Regions from separate parts of the Homo sapiens genome. Here region 1 is linked to region 2. Evidence: fine-mapped expression QTL. A gene starts in region 2. The other region holds a variant in brackets. All regions are shown on one strand. Distances are between the middles of the regions.

Evidence for each region. PIP is the estimated chance that this variant, and not a neighbour inherited with it, causes the effect.
Region 1: its variant is fine-mapped to the expression of WNT2B in subcutaneous fat (GTEx, PIP above 0.99).

Annotation. Positions count from the first base shown.
Region 1 is chr1:112,446,723-112,459,062 of GRCh38, reverse strand. CTTNBP2NL (CTTNBP2 N-terminal like) reads right to left here. Exons shown (of 6, transcript NM_018704.3): 4 at 9,891-10,121; 5 at 4,507-4,614; 6 at 1-3,132. The coding sequence ends at 1,651. Among named protein-coding and RNA genes, the nearest start is that of MIR4256, 8.9 kb to the left of the region's middle. The variant C/G (reference allele first, on the strand shown) is at 7,133.
Region 2 is chr1:112,504,588-112,512,587 of GRCh38, reverse strand. WNT2B (Wnt family member 2B) reads right to left here and starts at 3,623. Exons shown (of 5, transcript NM_024494.3): 1 at 3,144-3,623. The coding sequence starts at 3,325. RefSeq lists enhancers at 2,388-2,887, 3,812-4,355 and silencers at 2,987-3,281, 3,275-3,384, 3,445-3,524, 3,585-3,694, 3,705-3,834.

The sequences.
Region 1 (12,340 bases), 56 kb after region 2:
TTCTCATGAAAATTTGGATTTCAAAAAATGTGAAGAACTGGTAATCCTGGTTTAGCATTCTTGCACCGCAGCAAGCAGATGGAGCTGAACAGATGCCCTTTTTAAATGCGGCTTGGGCACTTTAGTTTGCCACAGCTCCCACTGCTCCCAGCTGTTTTACATCGCTTGTGTGAGAGGCCTGTTTCACTCATTTATATGACCAGTTGAGTTTTGTGACACTGGGGTTAGTTTAGCTCTGCCTATTTATTTTTTTAATAGAGATGGGGTCTCACTATGTTGATGAGGCTGGTCTTGAACACCTGGTCTCAAGAGATCCTCCCATCTCAGCCTCCCAAAGTGATAAGATTACAGGCATGAGCCACTGTGCCTGGCCAGCTCTGCCTTTTTATGATACTGAAGATCTAGGCTTCATTTGGAATTTCCTCACCTTCCTGTGGACAAAATTCCTCCTTTGATTGTGTCCCAGCCACATCTAGTTGCTTCGGTAGGTAATCTTAATGTGCAGTTCTACTTGTCCTTTATGCTATATTGCAAACTCCAAAGATATAATCACACTAGTATTTATGTGTTTAAGTGTGTGTATGTTAAACATGTAAAGGGGTAATGTATCTATACAGATATATGTATACTTCCCATTTAAGCAAAAGTTAATTTGGTTTTACAGATACAGATACCAGGTTCTGGCAGCTTGGAGAATAAGTGTAACAATTTGGTAAAACTTGTATAATTCTGACTGACCTATAATATTACAGAGTGAATTTCAAGTTATTGCTTTTTGATTACAGAATAAAAAATTCATTCTCTTGCAAAACTTTTATACAGAATGAGTAACCATTTCCTATTCAAGTAACAGCAATCAGAATCAGAAGTTCCTTACACAACAGTAGATGCTTGAGACATTTTTTGAATGGAGATGTGATTTCATTCTGTTCAAGAACTTATGCAGGAAACTGGGAGTGACTTAATTTTTCAAAAGTACAAGAAAATCAGCACCCCAACTGCTTAGTGCTCAGGAGGGTTTCTCAAGGGCTCTATAAAGCTCAGCTTGTGGTGAGTTCACACCCACCTTTAGAAGGATTCCCATTCTACTTATGCAGCCTTGTTTCAGAACACAAAGCTTGTATTAAAACATTAAAAGAGGATTAAAAGCAGTGTTGGTTTTTAACATTCAGAATTCACAGAGGATCTCATTTTCTGTAATTAAATGATCTATTTTGTGTTTTTTGCTGCAGAATCACATTCATATGGCAGTCATATTTCAGGCACTTTTAAAACATGTTCATCTGGAATAAAAATCTGCATGAACCACTTCTGCATAATTCAAAATGAGTGTTGAGTGATTCTAGTTCTCAAATAGATAGCAAATCACCACCTGGTGATTCGCTTTCTTCATCACAACATGACGGTGACTGCTGAGCTTGAGACATCTTTGAGGTGCCTTTCTGGCTTCAGTAAAAAGATGTGAGCCATAAAAATCCAAACTACTCAGTTTCTACTTAAAAAAATACAAAATGGTGAAATATACTAAATGTATTATACAGATGGTTTCAGCTACTATCAAAATAAATAACATAATCTGACTCAGAAGTCTGACTGAGCTTTTGGACGAAATCTGATGGAATGTCAAACGTGGAGACTCCCTCCTAGGGACTAGCTGCTGGTAGGCAAAAGTAACTCAACATCCTTACCATTTGCTACAACAGTATTGGAAGAGCAGCTGCTGGCAAGGTCTTCTGCAGTGGTCAAAGAGGCTGCCTGGGAATGAGTTTTGGTCAATGGAGTGGTAGCAGATGGAGAAGGGGTGAGGCCAGGTTTCTTGGGTGGGATGGGTGGAGGGTTTCCTCTCTCAGCTCTGGGGATGGTTGGGGACTTGATTCCTGGAGACAGGGGGCTCAGGGGACTGGACACTTTCCCTGGAGTAGGTGAATGGCTTGTGTCACCTCTTGGATTGGCAGTGTTGGCTAGATTTCGATAGTCTGTGCCAAAGGGAGAGCTGTTGGGAGAGACTGGCTTGATTGGCCCTTGTTGGCTAGTGAATCTGGAGAGCACCTGAGTGACTGTGTTTCGGGCCAGCTGCTTGGCGGCAGAGTTGTCTATGAGGGTGGGGGATAAATCCCTGGATGGAGGGCTCTGTAGGCCACTGGCTTGTTGGTCCTGATCTGCTTGGGACTGAAATTTGTGGCGAGCTGCATGGAACCGTTGGTTGATCCCTACTTGGTACGATGACTGGTAGCCAGGGCTGCTAGCTGATGACCCCAATAAACGCTTAGTGAGTACCGGCGAAGAGCAAGGAGAGGATGTTAGAGAGGAGGAGGCAGTGCTGCTGGGAGACAGTGAGCTCCCACTGGAAGAGAGGGGACTGGGCATTGGGACTGGAGTCTCAATCCCCACAGGACACCCACCATTCTCCACTGGTTTCTCTTGGGCCAATGCCACAGATTTTTCCCGTGGAGGCACCTGGTTTTCTACATTGTTGCCTGCAGTCAGCTCCCTGGTAGTTTGTATCTCTGGGTCACAATGGCCATTGGTTTTTGCATATGAGTAAGCAGGAGTGGCAGGACCAGGCAGCCCAGTGTTTGTCATCTTGGCTATGTTGCTCCCATGGGTTCTTTCTGCTGGAAAACTCTCTGTTTGGCAAAACACAGACATTAGCATGAGAGGCTCAGTTGCTGTGCCTTTGGACACGGTTACTGGTTTCTTCAATTGCTCATTAGGGCTACTGTGCTGGTGGGAAGCCTCTAGGTCCTTCACTATCTTCTTTAAACTTTCCATTTCTTCTTTCAGGGTTTTGGTCCGGTTCTCTTCTCGGTTCAGTTTTGCTCTCAGTTGTTCCCTTTCGATGTCAAACTCTGATAACTGCTTCTCTACCTGGGCCTCAGTCTGCAAGCCTCTCTTTCTCTCAGCTGCCAACTCTTCTTCCAGTTTACTCACCCGGCTCTTCTCCTTCTCCAATTTCAGGCTCAGCTCTCCTGCCTTCTGTCCTTCCTCGGCTGCCTTGTTGGTGGCTTTCTTGCACTCAAGCACTAGCATGGATGAGAGCTGCTTGTGGCGGGAGCGCTCCTCTTCCAGCTGACTAGAGAGCTTCTTCTGTTCTTTTTCAAACTTTTTCACTTGGGATTTTTCAAATTCCAACTAGAAAAAAAAAGAAAAGAGAGACATACTGACAAACTGTGATCAAGTAGACTGTCTTCGTTAGCTGTTCTCTGGTATACAGGATTAACATGCACATCACAGTGCTTAGATCAAGTATTTCTGAAATTTTAGAACACCTAACACAAAAAATGCACACACTATGATTTAATCTTTCTTTGATGATTTGGGAGGCACTTCTAGTTCCCATACTGTCTTGCAGTGATTAGTGGGAATATGACGTATCTTTGTGTTTCACGTATGTGGAGAGCATCAGAACCAATCAAAACAAGATAACAGAAAGCTGTATCAACCACATTTTGTGATGAATGTTGCTGAAAACAAACATTTTAAAGTTTCAGCAATAATTTTCTTGGGTCTCAGAAACAAACACACACAAATAGTTGCATTTGAATCATACTTTTTTTTGGAGACTGAGTTTCACTCTTGTCTCCCAGGCTGGAGTGCAATGGTGCAATATTGGCTCACTGCAACCTCCGCCTTCTGGGTTCAAGCGATTCTCCTGCCTCAGCCTCCCGGGTAGCTGGGATCAGTCATGCGCCACCACACCCGCCTAATTTTGTATTTTTAGTAGAGACAGGGTTTTTCCATGTTGGTCAGGCTGGTCTCAAACTCCTGACCTTAGGTGATCCACCCACCTCGGCCTCCAAAAGTGCTGGGATTACAGGCGTGAACCACTGTGCCCAGCCTGAATCATATTTTTTACACAAATATAGCCTGTTTTAATTGTCTTCCCAACCCTATTTGAGGCAGAGACTCTGCGTGAGAGGGAAAGGGTTGAAGAAACTCAGTGTTTTTCAAACTCTGAGATCCATTAATGGATGGGGAAACTAACTGAGCCACGACTAGAATTTTAAAAAAATATATAAACAGAAAACATCAATGTGTACTGTAGCAGTAGGGGTTATATATGATTTCATGAGATTTTTGTTTCAGGCGTAACTGTGTATGTCTACATATACTGGGTTGTGACATAAAATGTCACTTCTTACTGGGGGTTCTAAGTCAAAAGTTTGAGAGCTACAAGCGCTAAGTTACCATTCCCCAAAGAGTGTTCTACGGAACAATAATAATCCCACAGTGAGGGATCTATGCCAATAAAAGATTTTATAAAACCATGGATTTGCTAAACACAGAATACCCTATCTTGTTCTTGAAGACTCACAATGTGCTTCTGCATACTAAAGATCCTAACAAAGTTAGAAACCTGTTTAACTTTGCTTAATCCAGTAGTTCCTAAACTTATTTGACCACAAAGCCCCTTTTCTGAACAATACCAGTTGGCATCCTGCAGAATAATCTTTGGGAAATGCTGTTCCAGGCAAATGCTACTGTGAATCCCTCTACCTTAATTACCTGTTGAGTCAGCCTCTCTCTTTCCTTCTCTAGCATGTAGGTGACATCATCTCCTTCAGCCGTATCCTGTGCATGCCGCTGCCTTTCTTCCTCAAGGTCTAGGATCACCTTTAAAGAATTTTTTAAATTTCATTTTCAAATATCAAGGAGTCACATTTATTAATACAACCAATAATAAGTGCCAAATCAGGCACCTTAGATAGTTCCAGAGATCAAACAAACAAACGAATAAATGAAACCCAGCAAGGGCTATCAAGGAGCACACTGCCTTACAGTGAAAGACATGAAAGCTCTGTGTTAAACAGTAAGATACTTACTTTACTTGAAGTATGTAGAGAATGATATGCAAACAGAGAGAAGAGAGCAACTAATTAGCTAGAGGGGTTGAGGAGGTGTCGAGAATTAACAGAAATTCCAAGAAACTGCAGGCAGTTTGGTGTTACTAGGGGCCAGGTGTAGGTGATGGAGCAAGACAGGACCACAGAAACCTGAAAGCTGAGATTTTCTTCTCAATTCTCAAATCACCAGAGGCACCAAAGAAGGAGCCTGAAATTCAACATTTCAAATAGGTGACATTCTAAGTGTGCCTTGTTTAACTAATAATATACATTTTTATATAGTTAGATAAGAGGTGGATAGACTCTCTTGACTTCCTACTGCATGTAAAAAGGCTCAAATATAGAGACCTTAAATGGAGATTTTTCATACGCCCTTTTATTTAACTTGCCTACCCCTATTTCACTTACCCTGGTGCCAAAGGATTAAGCCCAATTTTAAGGAGAAGACAAATATATTTATTTTTCGAGACAGGGTCTTGCTTTGTCACCCAGGCTGGACTGTAGTAGTGCAATCATGGCTCACTGCTGCCTTGGCCTCCCGAGCTCAAGAGATTCTCCCACCTCTCAGCCTCCCAAGTAGCTGGGACTACAGGTGTGCGCCACCACGCCCAGCTGATTTTAGTATTTTTTGTAGAGATGGGGTTTTGCCATCTTGCCCAGGCTGGTCTGGAACTCCTGGGCTCAAGTGATCCACCCGCCTCAGCCTCCCAAAATGCTGGGATTACAGGTGTGAGCCATCACACATGGCCAAGAATACAAATTTAAAGAGACATTTTTCACATAATCCCATCTACAACTGCAAATATTCTGATTGCTTAGTAGCTTCTGCTCATGCTTCAGAAGTGCCTTGGCCCAGACCTCCAGGGTAGAGCACTCTTGTCCCAAAGGCCATTTCTTAGTCTTCTCACTAAAAATTTTTATGAGTGAAGAGAGTAAATTTTCTGGGACATGAAACCTGTCTATAAAAATAAAAATGAGCTCATGCCTGTAATCCCAGCACTTTTGGGAGGCAGAGGCAGGAGGATTGCTTGAGCACAGGAGTTTGAGACCAGCCATTTATTTCTCCCTCTCCCTCTCCCTCCCCCACCCCCTTCCTTCCTTTTGAGGAGACAGGGTCTTACTCTCACCCAAGCTGAAATGCAGTGGCATCATCTCGGCTCACTGCAATCTTTGCCTCCTAGGCTCAAGTGATCCTCCCACCTCAGCCTCCTGAGCAGCTGAGACTACAGGCATACACCACTATGGCCTGCTGATTTTTTGTAGAAATGGGGTGTCGCCATGTTGCCCAGGCTGGTCTCAAACACCTGGACTCAAGTGGTCCTTCTGCCTCAGCTTCCCAAAGTGATGGGATTACAGGTGTGACCCACTGTGCCCAACCCAAAACCCCATTTCTACAAAAAAGTACAAAAATTAGCCAGGCATGGTGAGGTGTGCATGTAGTCCCAGCTACTCAGGAGGCTGAGGTGGAAGGATCACCTCAGCCCAGGGAGGTCGAGGTTGCAGTGAGCCATGATTATGCCGTTGCACTCCAGCCCAGGCAACGGAGTGAGACTTTGTCTCAAAAAAAAAAAAAGAGGCCAGGAGTGGTGGCTCATGCCTGTAATCTCAGCACTTTGGGAGGCCAAAGCAGGTGGATCACCTGAGGTTGGGAGTTCGAGACCAGCCTGACCAACATGGAGAAACCCTGTCTCTACTAAAAATACAAAATTAGCCAGGCATGGTGGCACATGCCTGTAATCCCAGCTACTCGGGAGGCTGAGGCAGGAGAATCGCTTGAACCCAGTAGGCAGAGGTTGTGGTGAGCCAAGATTGTGCCATTGCACTCCAGCCTGAGCAACAAGAGTGAAACTCTGTCTAAAAAAAAAAAAAAAAAAAAAAAAAAAGAAGAGACTGGTGCTGTGGTGTATGCTTGTAGTCCCAGATACTAGGGAGGCTGAGGTGGATCACTGGAGCCCAAGAGTTCCAGGCTATAGGGTGCTATGATCGCACCTGTTAATAGCCACTGTACTCCCGCCCAGGCAACACAGCGAGACCCTGTCTCTCAAAATAAATGAAAGAAAAAAAATTTGGCACATTTCCTTTTTTTAATCTAATTTTTCAATTTAATAGAAAGACATGCTTTTGGCCAAAAGTGGTAAGTCTTATCTTCTCCCTTTTGGGAGTCCTCAAAAATTACAGAAATGGAATAAAAAGACTAAAACCCCACAAAGGAGAGAGCCTCTAGCAGAGAAAAAATTTTAATAATATTTTGAAGAAGAAAAGAGGCTGGAGTTGTGGTAACTACTTTA[C/G]TTTGAAGGAGGGAAGCTGTTTTGCCTTGCAGAGCCCCAAAGAGATGGAACCTGGAGGTGGCAGGTACTGCAGAGGAGAGGTGAAATGTAGAATAGAAAACAGGAGAACTGGCTCAAAGCCTGTTTTTTTGTTTGTTTGTTTTGTGTTTTTTTTTTTTTTTTTGAGACAGTCTTGCTCTGTCACCCAAGCTGGATTACAGTGGTGTGATCTCAGCTCACTGCAACCTCCACCTCCTGGGCTCAAGCTATTCTTCTGCCTCAGCCTCCCGAGTAGCTGGGATTACAGGAACGCCACCATGCCTGGCTAATTTTTGTATTTTTAGCAGAGATGGGGTTTCACCATGTTGGCTGGCCTGGCCTCGAACTCCTGACCTCAAGTGATCTGCCTGTCTTGGCCTCCCAAAGTGCTGGGATTACAGGCATGAGTCACTGTGTCTGGCCTTCAAAGCCTGTATTTTCAGAATTATTTGTCCCTTCACCCTGATTCCTGCACACAGACCATCAGCATCTGGCCTCTGTCACATCTACTATTCCCAAATCCTGAGCCTGTCACATTCAAGAAATAGTGTGACAGGCTCAGGATTTGGGAATAGTAGATGTGACAGAGAATGGTGGTGGGAAAAGAGGATTAAATTTGTTCTGGGTAAGGGTTAAGGAGAGGAAAGGGAGGCGGGGTGTAAGATAACTAAATCTGCACCTATATAAAAGAAAGTAATATAAATGTCTAAAATTGATAAAGCAAGAGAGAACAGTGCAGTATTTAGAAATATGGAGGTTAGCTACCAAAGTGAATGGCTAAAAGAAAAAACTGGTTGCCTGTGAATACTGGGGAGGATGGGGAATGAGAAGAGGTGGAATAGAAAACTGTTTTTCATTGTAAGCACAATGACCATGTAATTTATTATTCAAACCAGAACATTTCTGACAGTCAAAGGGAATATGGTTAATAACTAAGCCAAGGTGACAGGCATAAGCTGAGACTATGAGCACCCTAATTATAAGCCTCTAGGTACTGTTTGATTTCTAACAAAGTCAGTCTTCTACTTTGATAAACCACTTAAACTTGAACCTGGGAGGTGGTGGTTGCAGTGAGCCAAGATTGTACCACTGCACTCCAGCCTGGGTGACAGAGTGAGACTTCACCTCAAAAAAAAAAAAAAAAAGAATAGATAGGTACTTTGTTTCAAAAATTTAATATTCACTTAAAACATTTAGCACTGCAATATAGTATTAAGAAATTTTGAATTATTTTTAACTTCTTCCTCTCTCCAATCACCTAGAAACACAAACTGTCCCTAGTACACCTTCCATGGGCATGAAAGCTAGCCCAACTAGCTTCAACACAACTCAGTCACCTCATGGATGAAGTGGAAATAAAGCCTGCCTATTAAACAAGAATGTTGTGAAGATTTTTAGAGAATTATGTAAAAGCTCCCCCTCCACCCAATTTAGGCAACTAACTCCCACCCACTGATACCTTTTAAATTGGAGTGTAAATGTTTTCAGATTACTTCATTCTAACCAGAGGTTAAACATTTTTGGGTCTTGGGTAACTTGGAGAATCTGATTAAAGCTATGGAAAAAATACATTTCCTACAAAAATGCATAAACTCTGAACATTCTGTCTATTTTCTGGGGGACTGTGGAACATCTGAGGCCTATCCATGGTTAAGAAGTTCCACTCTGGCCTTTCATTTGGCTTCTGTGAAGGGAAAGAAAAGATCACGGGCAAGATCCAGAGCCTAGAAAATGTATCAGATGCAATTTAAGAAGATGGCTCTAATGCTGATAACCATAAAAGTAAGGTCCACCAAATTTTGCAGCTGCTAACCCTATTTTTCAGATGAAAATGTTTCCTACCAAATGCACTGATAACTGCCTTGTTGGCATAAATCTAAACTGACAGTGTTTTAAAAATGAAGATTGTAGCCAAGCATCTTTTACAGGCCAAATTTGAGGAGTAAATGACAAGATGACAAGTTGGTGAATAAATTCACAAGCACTAGAATTCCAGTAAGATGAAGCAGAGGAAAGCACAGGTTTGCCTTCTTAGGGCTTGTTAGAAATGGAAACACACACACACACTCTTTACTAATAGGGTAGAACAGCTTTAAAGTAAATACTGTAAATAACCATAAGGTTTGCCTTCCTATTTTAGGGCTTGTTAAATATGGAAAACACACACACACACACACACACACACCCCTCACTAATAGAGTAGAACACCTTTAAGGTAAATAAACCAAGGGACTGTTTATGGTTTCATGAGCAACAAAATGCAATGAAACTCAAAACTAGGAATAATAGGAATAAATGAAAATAATCTATTGGCTTCTGTGTTTATCCTCAGGTAAATTCTTTCTCTCCCTTGGATATAGCATGCCTCAAATACCTGTTAATCTTTTTATTTATCTCTTAAGTAAGCAAATAGAGAACACTCCCGTCAGCTACAAGCTTGGCCAAACCCCAAAGTTTGAATGATCAAGAACTGAAAAAACATACAAAGTGTTTTGGAGTGACATATCAAGAAGAAATGCTGTCTTAAATAACGTGTCTGGCACGTTCTCTAAACTTAACATTTGCAATAAGCTGTGTTTTCTTTTTTATCTCCTGGCTCTTACATAAACTAAGGGGCTTTTTGATACCCGTGAGATGTCCCAATTGAATTACTGTGAAAAACTGGCAGCTGACAAGAAAGTATCAGGCATAATTTATAAAGACTTCACAAAGATTTACACATCAACTGAGGTGAACCTACCTTTCGGTGCCTGCTCTCAGCAGCAGCCAGCTGGGACAGCATGCGCTCCTGCATGTTCTTGCACTGCTTCATCACAACCTTAAGAATAGAGAGTGGATTTGTGCAGACTGGCTGCTTTTCGCCATCATTTTTCTCCTTCAGTGTTTCAAAATCTCTCTGTAGAGCCATTAAAGGATCACTGATGTTATATTTTCCATAGCGTTCTTCAATGAAAGTATCTCTGTGTTGGGCCTGGGAAAGAGGAAAAAAAATAAGCATCTTGCTTTTTAAAACTACTGAGGAAGGGGGATTTGCTATCCAGTGGTTATACATTAAAGGTTGTGGTATTAGTATAAATGTAACCTACTAATTACAAGTCAGATTGAGCCATCTAAAGAAACAGCATTAGAAAGGTGGCATGGTATATTAACAAGAACAAATACTTATAAAGCACTATGTATTAGACATTGTTTTAAATATTTATAGTCAGATTAACTTGTTTAAAATTTACAACCCTGTAAGGTAGTGCTATCATCTCGATTTTGCTGATGAGAAAACTATTCCTGGTTACTCATCTAGCAAGCTGTCTGAATTGGGATTTAAACCCAGGCAACCTGGCCCCGAAGTCTGTGTCCTTAACCTCTGTGCTTACTGACTCTGCTTATATCTGCTTATGAATGCTTATATTACCAGCAGGTACATCTTATTTTTTTCCGTGTTATGGTACTAGCATTTCTAAAACATGTTAAGTATGATAATTTTATGAGTTTATATATTTAGAGACCTAACAAAATGCCAGCAGATATATAAAGTGTGCAAAATATAAGCAGGATCACATTACAATCTAGGACTACTTGTGACCTGTACATATGAACCATTACTCAGTTGTTGATGGGTCAAGGAGGATGGAGGCACCTCATAACCAGACATGCAGACAAAACCTCTTCCACCTGCTGCCAAATTCCACCCCCTCTTCTTGTCTCTGGTTGTTACTTTCCATTCTCTTTTCTGTCTCTTTCAAGGCTTGATGAGCCTTGGGGATGAGCATGTAAGAAAGGGATGCAAGCTGGTGCCTGGAGTCTGGTCAAGGACGTTAGCCCTGGGTACCCAGTTGGGAGTATAAGGATCAGGAAGTGGGTGGAAAGATATTCCTAGGCTTCCCTCTTTCCTTATCTCTGTAGGAAGAGCTTGAAGAACTCCACATGAGCATCATACATTACATGTACATTACTTTTTACTTATTACACAGATATTTAAAAGTTTCTTGAGATATTTTACAATGAAAAATGAAGTGTTAACACAGGGTTGAAGAAACTAAAAAGTCACAGCAAAGTACTATATAATTTAAGCTTTCAAATTAAATCTGGTTATGAAAACTACTATTATTTATCCATTTTAAAAAACTAATCAGTAGTCATGTTTTCTTAGCACTGCCATCCACAAATAGGAGCCTGTTTAAAAAAAAGGGAAATTTGCAATTCATTGGCTATGCTTTAATTTAAAGGAAACTTTAAGAAAATAAAGCAAACATGGGTTTTTTTTTTAACACAGAAGTATTTCAGTGCTGAAAATCTGAAGACTTCTTCTTCATTGACTGTCCAATTTAGGCCCCAGGAATCACTTAGCCTTATGGTAAAATTTTACGTTCTTATCAGCTGGCAAATGTTCAAAGCAGTTAGAAATTCTGGGTTTTACTTCTGGCTTGACTGCAGCCATCTTACTTTATGACATTACTGGAGTATTTGGATGTTATTTGTATACTGGAAATATGAAGAGAGAAATCCATTTCTTTAAGTTACTAATAACTATCTTTCTAGCCTTATGGTGTGTTGTGTGTGTGTGTGTGAATTAAAAGTGGGGGAGGTATAAAACACAGAGTCTAAGATGAAACTCTACTTTTTTTTTTTTTTTTTTTTTTTTTAGATGGAGTCTCGCTCTGTCGCCCAGGCTGGAGAGCAGTGGCACAATCTTGGCTCACTGCAAGCTCCACCTCTTGGGTTCACGCCATTCTCCTGCCTCAGCCTCCCAAGTAGCTGGGACTACAGGTGCCCACCACCACGCCCGGCTAATTTTTGTATTTTTTAATAGAGACGGGGTTTCACCATGTTAGCCAGGATGGTCTCGATCTCCCGACCTCGTGATCCACCCGCCTTGGCCTCCCAAAGTGCTGGGATTACAGGCGTGAGCCACTGCGCCTGGCTGAAACCCTACTTTTTTCAGCTCCAAGTTAAAAAGGAAATTCACAGTAAAATTTCAAAATAACCTCCAGTCCATTTAGGATGGAGAAAGAAAAGATCAGCTCCAGAACCAGCCATTCTTCTTCTTATTTTAAAACATGGTGAATAGCCGGCCGCAGCATCTCATGTCTGTAATCCCAGCACTTTGGGAGGCAGAGGCAGGAGAATCACTTGAGCCCAGGAGTTTAAGACCAAACTGGGCAAAATAGGGAGACCTTGTCTCTACAAAAAACA
Region 2 (8,000 bases):
AGCTTCCTGCCCCAGAATGCTTCTCTTCACCTGCTTTTGGCCAATTCACATCCCTTCATTTGACAAAGTGAGGCATACACTACTCTAGCCCCTTGCTACTCAAAGTGTGGTCCCCAGAACAGCAGTATCTGTATCATGTGGGGATTCGTTAGAAATGCAGACATTCAGGCCCCACCCAAGGCCTACCGTAACAGAATCTGCATTTCACCATGATCCTCACATGGTTTGGATGCACCACTCCACAAAGGCAGGGATTTTTGTCGGTTTTGTTCAATTCAATATCCCCAGTACTGAGAACAGTGCCTGGCACATAGTAGGTATGCAATCACTATTTGTTGAATAAACACCTAACTGTTCTGATTTATCCCCAACTCCCTTCTCCCTCTAGCCAGCCATTAACTCCCATTTCCATTACAGCTTTACTTGTCAACAGTTGCCAGCCTATCTGCAGATGTTTTATGTTTGTATGTTAAAGACACAAACGGGCCAGGGATCTGCTTTTTTTTTTTCTTTCCTCCTTTCGTGTACAGCCCCTAGTGTACATGATTCAGCCCAGCACATATAGAACTTTGAACACAGAGATAACACTATTAGCCTCCATGAATCTGCTCTTAATGCCACAGCATCCCTCACTTTCATTTGTGAAATAAGGATGATAATAGAACCCATCTCACTGGATTATTTCAGATTGACAAAGATCATGCTCATAAGGTGTTTGGCCATAGTGCCTGAAGCTCAGTAAGGGCTTATTAAAAGCAACTGCTGTTGGTAAAAGTAGTGCTAACAATATGATACCACTTTGTGTTTCTCTCCCTTTGTGAGCCTATGAATACAATCCTGTTCTTGTGATTCCCTACATCCAACCCCCTACAGAATGCAAAATGAAACAGGAAAGCACATGCCGGAAGCTCCCTATTTCTTGGTCTGTTTAGGATAGATAGAGGGAGGGCAGTGGTTAGAGAGTAAGGGGAAGAATCTCAAGCTATGAGAAAAATCCAAATATTAACTGGTGAAAATGATGGCCTTCTGCTCCAGAGTGGAACATGGACACACCAGAGTCAACAGGCATTTCTCTTCCACGGGTTGTACAGAACATCAATCTTGCTGGTTTTTTCCTAAGAGAAAGGCTTGGGGGCTTAGCCTGCCCTTAGAAGGTAGCTTTTCACCTTATCCCACAAGTGGTGATCACTGAGGCAGGCATCTGGGCCTGTAGCTATGACAGGTGTGGAGCAAGGAGGCTGAAACAACCTCTGTACCCACTTCCCAACCTGGCCCTGTTGCAGCCTTCCTCCTTTTCACAGGGGCTGCTAAGTCACTCTGTGTCACCTCCCTCCCTCCCTCCCTCCCTAGCTCTTTCACCCAGGAATTTTTCCAGAATCTTTAATATGAACCACATCAGGGGAGGGTAGTAGAGGGAGAAAGGAAAAGGGAGAGGGAGTAGTCAAGAGTACAAAATGGGAACTAGGAAGACCCCCATTTGGGTCTTTAGGAACCACTGCCAGGATGCTGAAATTACCAGAGTGACACTTCCTCACCCAAACACCAATTGGTCCCCAAGACTATATCCCAAACTGGTAAGAAGCAATCAAGAGTCCCAAAAAGCAAACTGCTGTCTGAGCCAGATAAAGATGGGCAGCGGTTACTTCATGTTGTCTCAACAAAGACCCTGAAGATGCCAAGTCCCCAGCCAGACCAAGCTCATGAAGGCAAAAGGTAGCTTTGATCTCACTCAGAACTTTGAAAGGTTTTTCTCCTCATCCCCCTTCTCCCCTTTCCCTTTCTAAAAGAATGTTTCAAGCCAGATGTAAGATATAGGCCTCTCTGTTCCCCCAACCAGAACCCCCCCTCCTTGCCTTCCCCAACACTGCAGAGATTTAAAAAAAAAAAATTCAAAAGAGATTTTTCTGAAACAGGAAAACAGGGGGTGGGGGTTGGGATAAGGAGAGACGGCATCTTGAAATGATAGGAATCTGCAGCCCAAGCTGGCGGGCCCCTCGGCCAGCTACCCCTCACCCTTCAGCCAAGATTCCAAGTCAAGAGGAGAAAAGCCACAGGGTGCAAGGAGAGAAGAGACCACATTTCGGGGAGGGGGGCTTGCACGGGAAGAAGAACGGAGTAAGGAAAGGACGGGAGGCACTGCCTGGTGGAGAGGGGCAATAGCCTAGTCCAAGAGGCCAGTTTGATTGTGGGGTGAAGAGGAAAGACTGAGTCTTTTCTAGGTTCAACTCTCCCTGCTTTGCCCTCTCCCCATGGTGGGGAAGAAGGGAAAGCAGCTCCTTCTCCTACGGGAAGGTGATGAGTGCCATCCAAGGAGTAGGGGGCAGGGAGGATTCTAAAAAGAACAGACACGAGACATCCAGTGGATCTGTAATGCCTTTTTGCCTCATCTGCCCTCTTGTGAAGTGTCTGGAGTCTAGGGCCTGCAAGAAATCTGGGGAGGGGGTCTCTTAGTATCTTGGGACTCCGCAGCCCTCTGGCTCTTGGAGGGGAGAAATGGGAGATGGGAAAGAATAGGAAGAAGGGAGGGAGGCAAAGTTTCCTAAGTGACATCCTCAAAACGGTGGCTGAAGACAAATGCCTAGATAATGCAAACCCATGCGTTTTGTTTGTTTTAATTGTGGGAGTTAATGGGGTAAATTTTGCCTCGATTCCATTTCTAAGCCTCGGCTGGGTGCTGCTGCCTCACCAAAGCCTTCCTGTGGTATGGGTGGGCTAGACTAGCGAGCTGCCCCTTTCTCCACCTCTCAGAGGGCGACCTTAGGCGATTGGGGCCCTGGCGAAGCTATTGCGGGCCCTGGAAGGTTATTCGTTCCTTGAACTCACCCTGAGGGAAACTCGGAAGGTAGCTTCTGCCCTAAGGGGCTTGAGCTGAAATAGAGGGGGTACAGCACGTGGAGGCCTAAGGAGCCGCGACCACCGGGCATCCTTGCTCCGAATGCCCAGCGCCTTTCTCACCAGTCGTGTAAGACGCGGCGCCTCACCCTCCCGCCACCCCGCGACTTCAGATTTCAGTGACAGTCCTGCCCGAATCGTCTCCAACCCGTCGAAGCAACAGCCTGGTCCCGTGAGCAGCCAGTCCCTCCAGGCGCCTCCGGCCTCTCCTACCAAGCGCCTCACCCGCCCAGCCTGAGAGCCACACTTACCACCAGGACGTGTCTACGCGGGCCGGCAGCGTCAGCAGCAGCAGGAGCAGAAGGCAGGCAAGACCTAGGCGGGCCGAAGCCCGGGAGCCGTCGGGGGCCGCGGGCGACGGCACAGGGACCGGGGCGCTGGCGCGCCGAAGCGGGAGCTGCGCAGCTTCCTCCGCACCACCCGGTCTCAGCATAGCTCCCCGAAGACTCCCGCCGCGCAGCCCGGAGGGGCGTGGACGGGGCACCTTCTGGGGGTACTCAGGCTGCTCCTACCTCACCCCCCTGGGGGGCCATGGTGTTCGCCGGCGGCTGGGGACCTAGGATCACCTGGGGTCCAGAGCCCGGGAGGAGGATCCCCGAGAGGGGCGCAAGTTGCGATGTCCGGAAGCCGACGACGGCGTGCCGAACCCGGGGTCTGGGGCGCGCTGCCTGAGGACCGGGTGCGGTGTCAGGGGGTCTGCGGCGCTGAAGGGAGCTGCGGGCCTAGTGTGCGGACAGCCCCTTCGGCCGCGGGCTCTCATTGGACGGGACGGGGCGGGGCCGAGGCCGGGGACACGCGCGGCCCTTAGGGCGGCTCCGCCCGCGCCAAGCCCGGGGCGCTCCGCGACGCCCTAGGTGTAGCAGCCGCCTCCGCCCCTCGGGGCTCCCGCGCGCCACCGCGCTGCACCCCCACCTGCTCCCGCACGCTGCGACGGGACGCCGCGGCTCCCTCCTGCGCCCCAAGCGCCCAGTCCCTGCCGACACCGCGCCACCGGGTCCTAGCGCCCTTCACTCAGCAGCCCCACTTCTATGGGTGACGGCCAGGCTGGCGGAGCGGGAAGGGGATGCGGGCACTTCCCTCCTGTCCCCAACCTACAGTGACACCGGCGCTGAGCACGGAGGATGCACTCATTTCCTCCATCCTTGCGCTTCTGTGAAATGGGTAGAGTCCCTGCCACCGGGAGTTGGAGGTCTTAACTACCTTTTCAACACTGCCTACAGGAGCGCCGTGGGCAGTCGGCTTCTAGCAGGGGATGCTTTCAGCTAGAGCTCATCGCCCCTGCTTCTTCTGAGCCACTGCACCCCCCACCCCCAATGCATCACGTTTAGACCTGGCTCCTGCTTGCCCGGCCTGCCCGGCCCGGGTGCTTTTCTTTACGGACCGGGAATCGACTGCCGACGCTAAGGGGGCACCTGCGGACTCCCCGCCCCTTACTCCTGGGCTCAGCGGAGCTCAGTCTCTCCCCGCTCCCCCTCTGTGCCTCGGTCCTCCACCCTCTCGGGCGGGGCTGAGAGTATGAAAGAATCAGAAACAGCTGGGAGGTTTTCCCGCACCAGAGGCCAGGGTGGGGGTCCTGCCGAGAGAGTGGAAGCCCTGGAGCTTTTTCCCTCCTTCGTCTTCTCGCCCTGCCTCCTCCCCACTGCTCCTTCACCCTCCCTCCGCCCGCACAGCGCCTGGGGGCGTGGTAAATAGGGAAGGGGTGGGGAGGTGCAGTCTGCCGAAAGAGACTCTCCTCTCCCCACCACCCCAACCCTCAAACCTCCCAGGATAGCAGGTACGGGCCCTGCGGGCACTGTGGCCCTCCGTCAGAAGTAAAATTCTTTTTAAAATCCTGGGCTTAACTTCGAGAGTTCAGAGTTCACCTGGGATCTGGCTCCAGTCGCTTCTTCAGCCTCAGTTTCTCCCACCTCGCAGGTGTCTTTCCTGCCTCCTCATATGATTTTAAAGTCCTGGGGTAAACAACTTACTAGTAACTGCCGATGCCCCCAACTCCAAATTCACTGTCAGTCTTTGGTTGGGGGTGGGGGGCGGTGGTGGCGTTAGAGGTGCCTCCCGAGTGTAAGCAGATGGGGTGCAGCTGGCTGCAGACATCTCAGAGACAGAGATAGTGGAGAAGGTTTCAGAGGAACCTTTAACCTCTCTCCCCACCGCCTCCGGGTCCTAGCGCCCCTCACTCCGCAGCCCCAACTTCTGTGGGCGGGCAGAGTGGGAAGGGGCTGCAAGCACTTCCCTCCTGTCCCCAACCTACAGTGACACTCCTTTACCCCCACTTTCTGTGGTAAGGTGATGAGTGCATTCATTAATTCAACAAATACTTATTTCCTACCACATGCCAGGACTGTGCTAGGCACTAGGGACCCATTGGTGAACAGTCTATGCCCTCATGGAGTTTGCCTTCTATTGCAGGAGGATAGACCATAAACAATAAACATCAGAAGTAAAACAGAGTATGTTAAAAAGTAGTAAGTGCAGTGGTAAAGAGAGCACAGTCAAGGGGATGGTTACAGTTGCAACTAGGATGATCAGGGTAGGCCTCATTAAGGTGACATGCAAGCAGAGATTTGAAGGAGGCAAGGAATCAAGCCAGGCAGCTTCCTGGTGAAGAGCATCCTAAGCCGAGGGCAGAGCCCGTACAGGGACCCAAAGGCAGGAGTGGGCTGGTGTACGAGGGTTATCGAGAAGGCCATCCAGCTGGAGCGGAGTGCGTGGAGGAAGAGAATTCAGATGAGTCCCTGAGGTGCTCCAAGTCATGAATGGGAGGCAGTGCTCCCCACTTGGGTGGAAAGTGGGGGCTGGGCTGGAGTTGGATGGGAGTTGGAGAGGACTGAATACAGACACTTCTCAGGGCCGACTTCCTGGCACAGAAACTGGGACCATATCCTTTGTGGCCAACAGGCTAACTTATTTTCTTCCCCTTCTCTCCCTTTCTTTTTGTCGGGTGGGCTCCAGTTGGCCTGGCTATTTCCTTAGAAAGGCACAGACTCTGTGCTTAGTTTTCCTGAGAGGGGCAGGTGGGAGAGGAATGAGCCCAGGCTCCTTCTTGGCTGGGCCTCTTTCCTTGGACCACTCTTTTACCTCCTCCCAACCCAGCCCCATCCCTACACAGGGCAGTCTTGGAGCTCCAGCAGCCTCTCCCAGACTCCCCTGTGTGTTTAGACCTGGGTGTGACTCTGGCCCTGTGTTTATTTCTACACAGGGCCTGGGGTTGGTGGAAAGCGCAGGGAGGGGGAAAGTTGGCTGAAGATGATCACATCAGCCCTAACCTAGAGTGGACTCGCCCACATGGGCCCCCAAATCACTTCTGAGGCCCCTTCTTTGGCCTGAGCTGTCTTTACAGTCAAGTGGGACTGTGTCTTGGCACAACACAGATGCTCAAGTATTAAAGCATGTTTTTGAGGCCCAGGCTTGGTGGCTTACGCCTGTAATCCCAGCACATTGGGAGGCCGAGTTGGGAGGATGGCTTGAGCACAGGAGTTAGAGACTAGCCTGGTCAATACGGTGAGACCCAAAAAATTTTTTAAATTAGCCAGGTGTGGTCATGCACACCTGTGGTCCCAGCTACTTGAGAGGCTGAGGCAACAGGATTGTTTACGCCCAGGAAGTCAAGGCTGCAGTGAGGCATGAATGCACCACTGCACCCAGCCTGGGCAACAGAGTGAGACCCTGTCTCAAAATAAATAAATAGAAATAAAAAAAATTTTAAAGCATGTTTCTGAGCTGAAGGGAGGGGTGAGGGGGGTACAGCCAGAAACATCAGCAGCTCTGAGAGGGAAGGAAGTGGGTGAGGGGACTAGACTTCTCTCTAAGGTTTACAAGTCACCTCTGCCCCCAGAGTGGACAACCTAGGATGAGGCTTGGCTCCTTCTGCTTCTTTGTCCCCTCTCCTCTGAGTCCCCAGTTCCCCGGGAGGAATCCCAGGCTGCAGGAGCCAGCTGACTGCAAGAGCTGCACTCAACCACTTAACTAGAGAACAAATATGGAGCCAGAGAAGAGGTTTTCTGGGATCTGCCTCTTTGGAGCTTCAAATCTCAAAATAAACTTCCAGTCTCAAGGTCCTAGACACTACTGGAGAGCTCAGCTCCTCACGCAAAGGCTTGTTGTGGGGCTGCCAGGCAGAGGGTCAAGGCCAGAGGCTCAAGCTAGCTCCTGACCTGCATCTTCATTTTATTCCACACTCTCACTCTCAGTTCTGGGAGCCAGAGGGAGGAGTCACTGATCTCAGAGTTAAGTTCTGGTCTGTAGAACCCTGCATGGAGTCAAGTCAGCACTTACTGAGCACCTGCTGTGTGCCCAACACTGGCCAGGGTATCCTAAATAACAAGGAGCAAAAGGCATTACTCCCAAGGCATTTTCATGGAAATATAATAAAACCGTCTGTGGGTGGCACACTAGGCTCTGCTGAAGTTCAAGGGTGCATGCTGCAGACATAGTGAACAGTATCAGTAGAGACCTGAGGAAGAATCCCAGGTCCCCTGAAAGCTGCCAGATTACCTGGGGCCTCCAGCAGGACAGCTTCCACCCAGCCAGCAGAGTCAGGTCCACCCTCTTCCCCATAGTGGCACTAGAGCCTCCTCCTGTCCTCTCAAAAGTGGGTGCCCAAAGAAGAAGGGTCCACTGTCACCCTTGATGTCACCTTATGCTCTGCTCTCTGGTGGGACAGAGTTAAGATTTCTTTTCACTCTGTTCTCAGCTATGCGTGGCTGAATGATTTTGAATTTTTGCTGGCCCTTGGATGGGAGGGGAGATGAGCTAAGGGGAGCTGGGGTGTGGGTAAACAGCTCTTACCCCACCCTGCTCTATCCTCCAGAAGGCTCCCCTTCCCTGGGCCCCTTTGGCGATGACCTTCTCTTTTTCCCGGTGGGTGGGAGGTGGTGTGGATGGTAATGAGCAGAGAGAAAGGCCAAGAAGGGGCTGGGGGGAGGTTTGGATGGGAGTCAAGGAATTCCTGAGCCTGCTGCTTGCACAAGGGGCCCTGAGACGCCTTTCCTGAGATTTCTTTGCAAACCGAGGCAGGTCTTATTTGAAATAGGGCCAGGTTCACACAGGTAACTAATGCCTCACCTCTTGCCCTGCCACCCCATGCAGGTGTCTGGGGAAGTAAAGGAAGC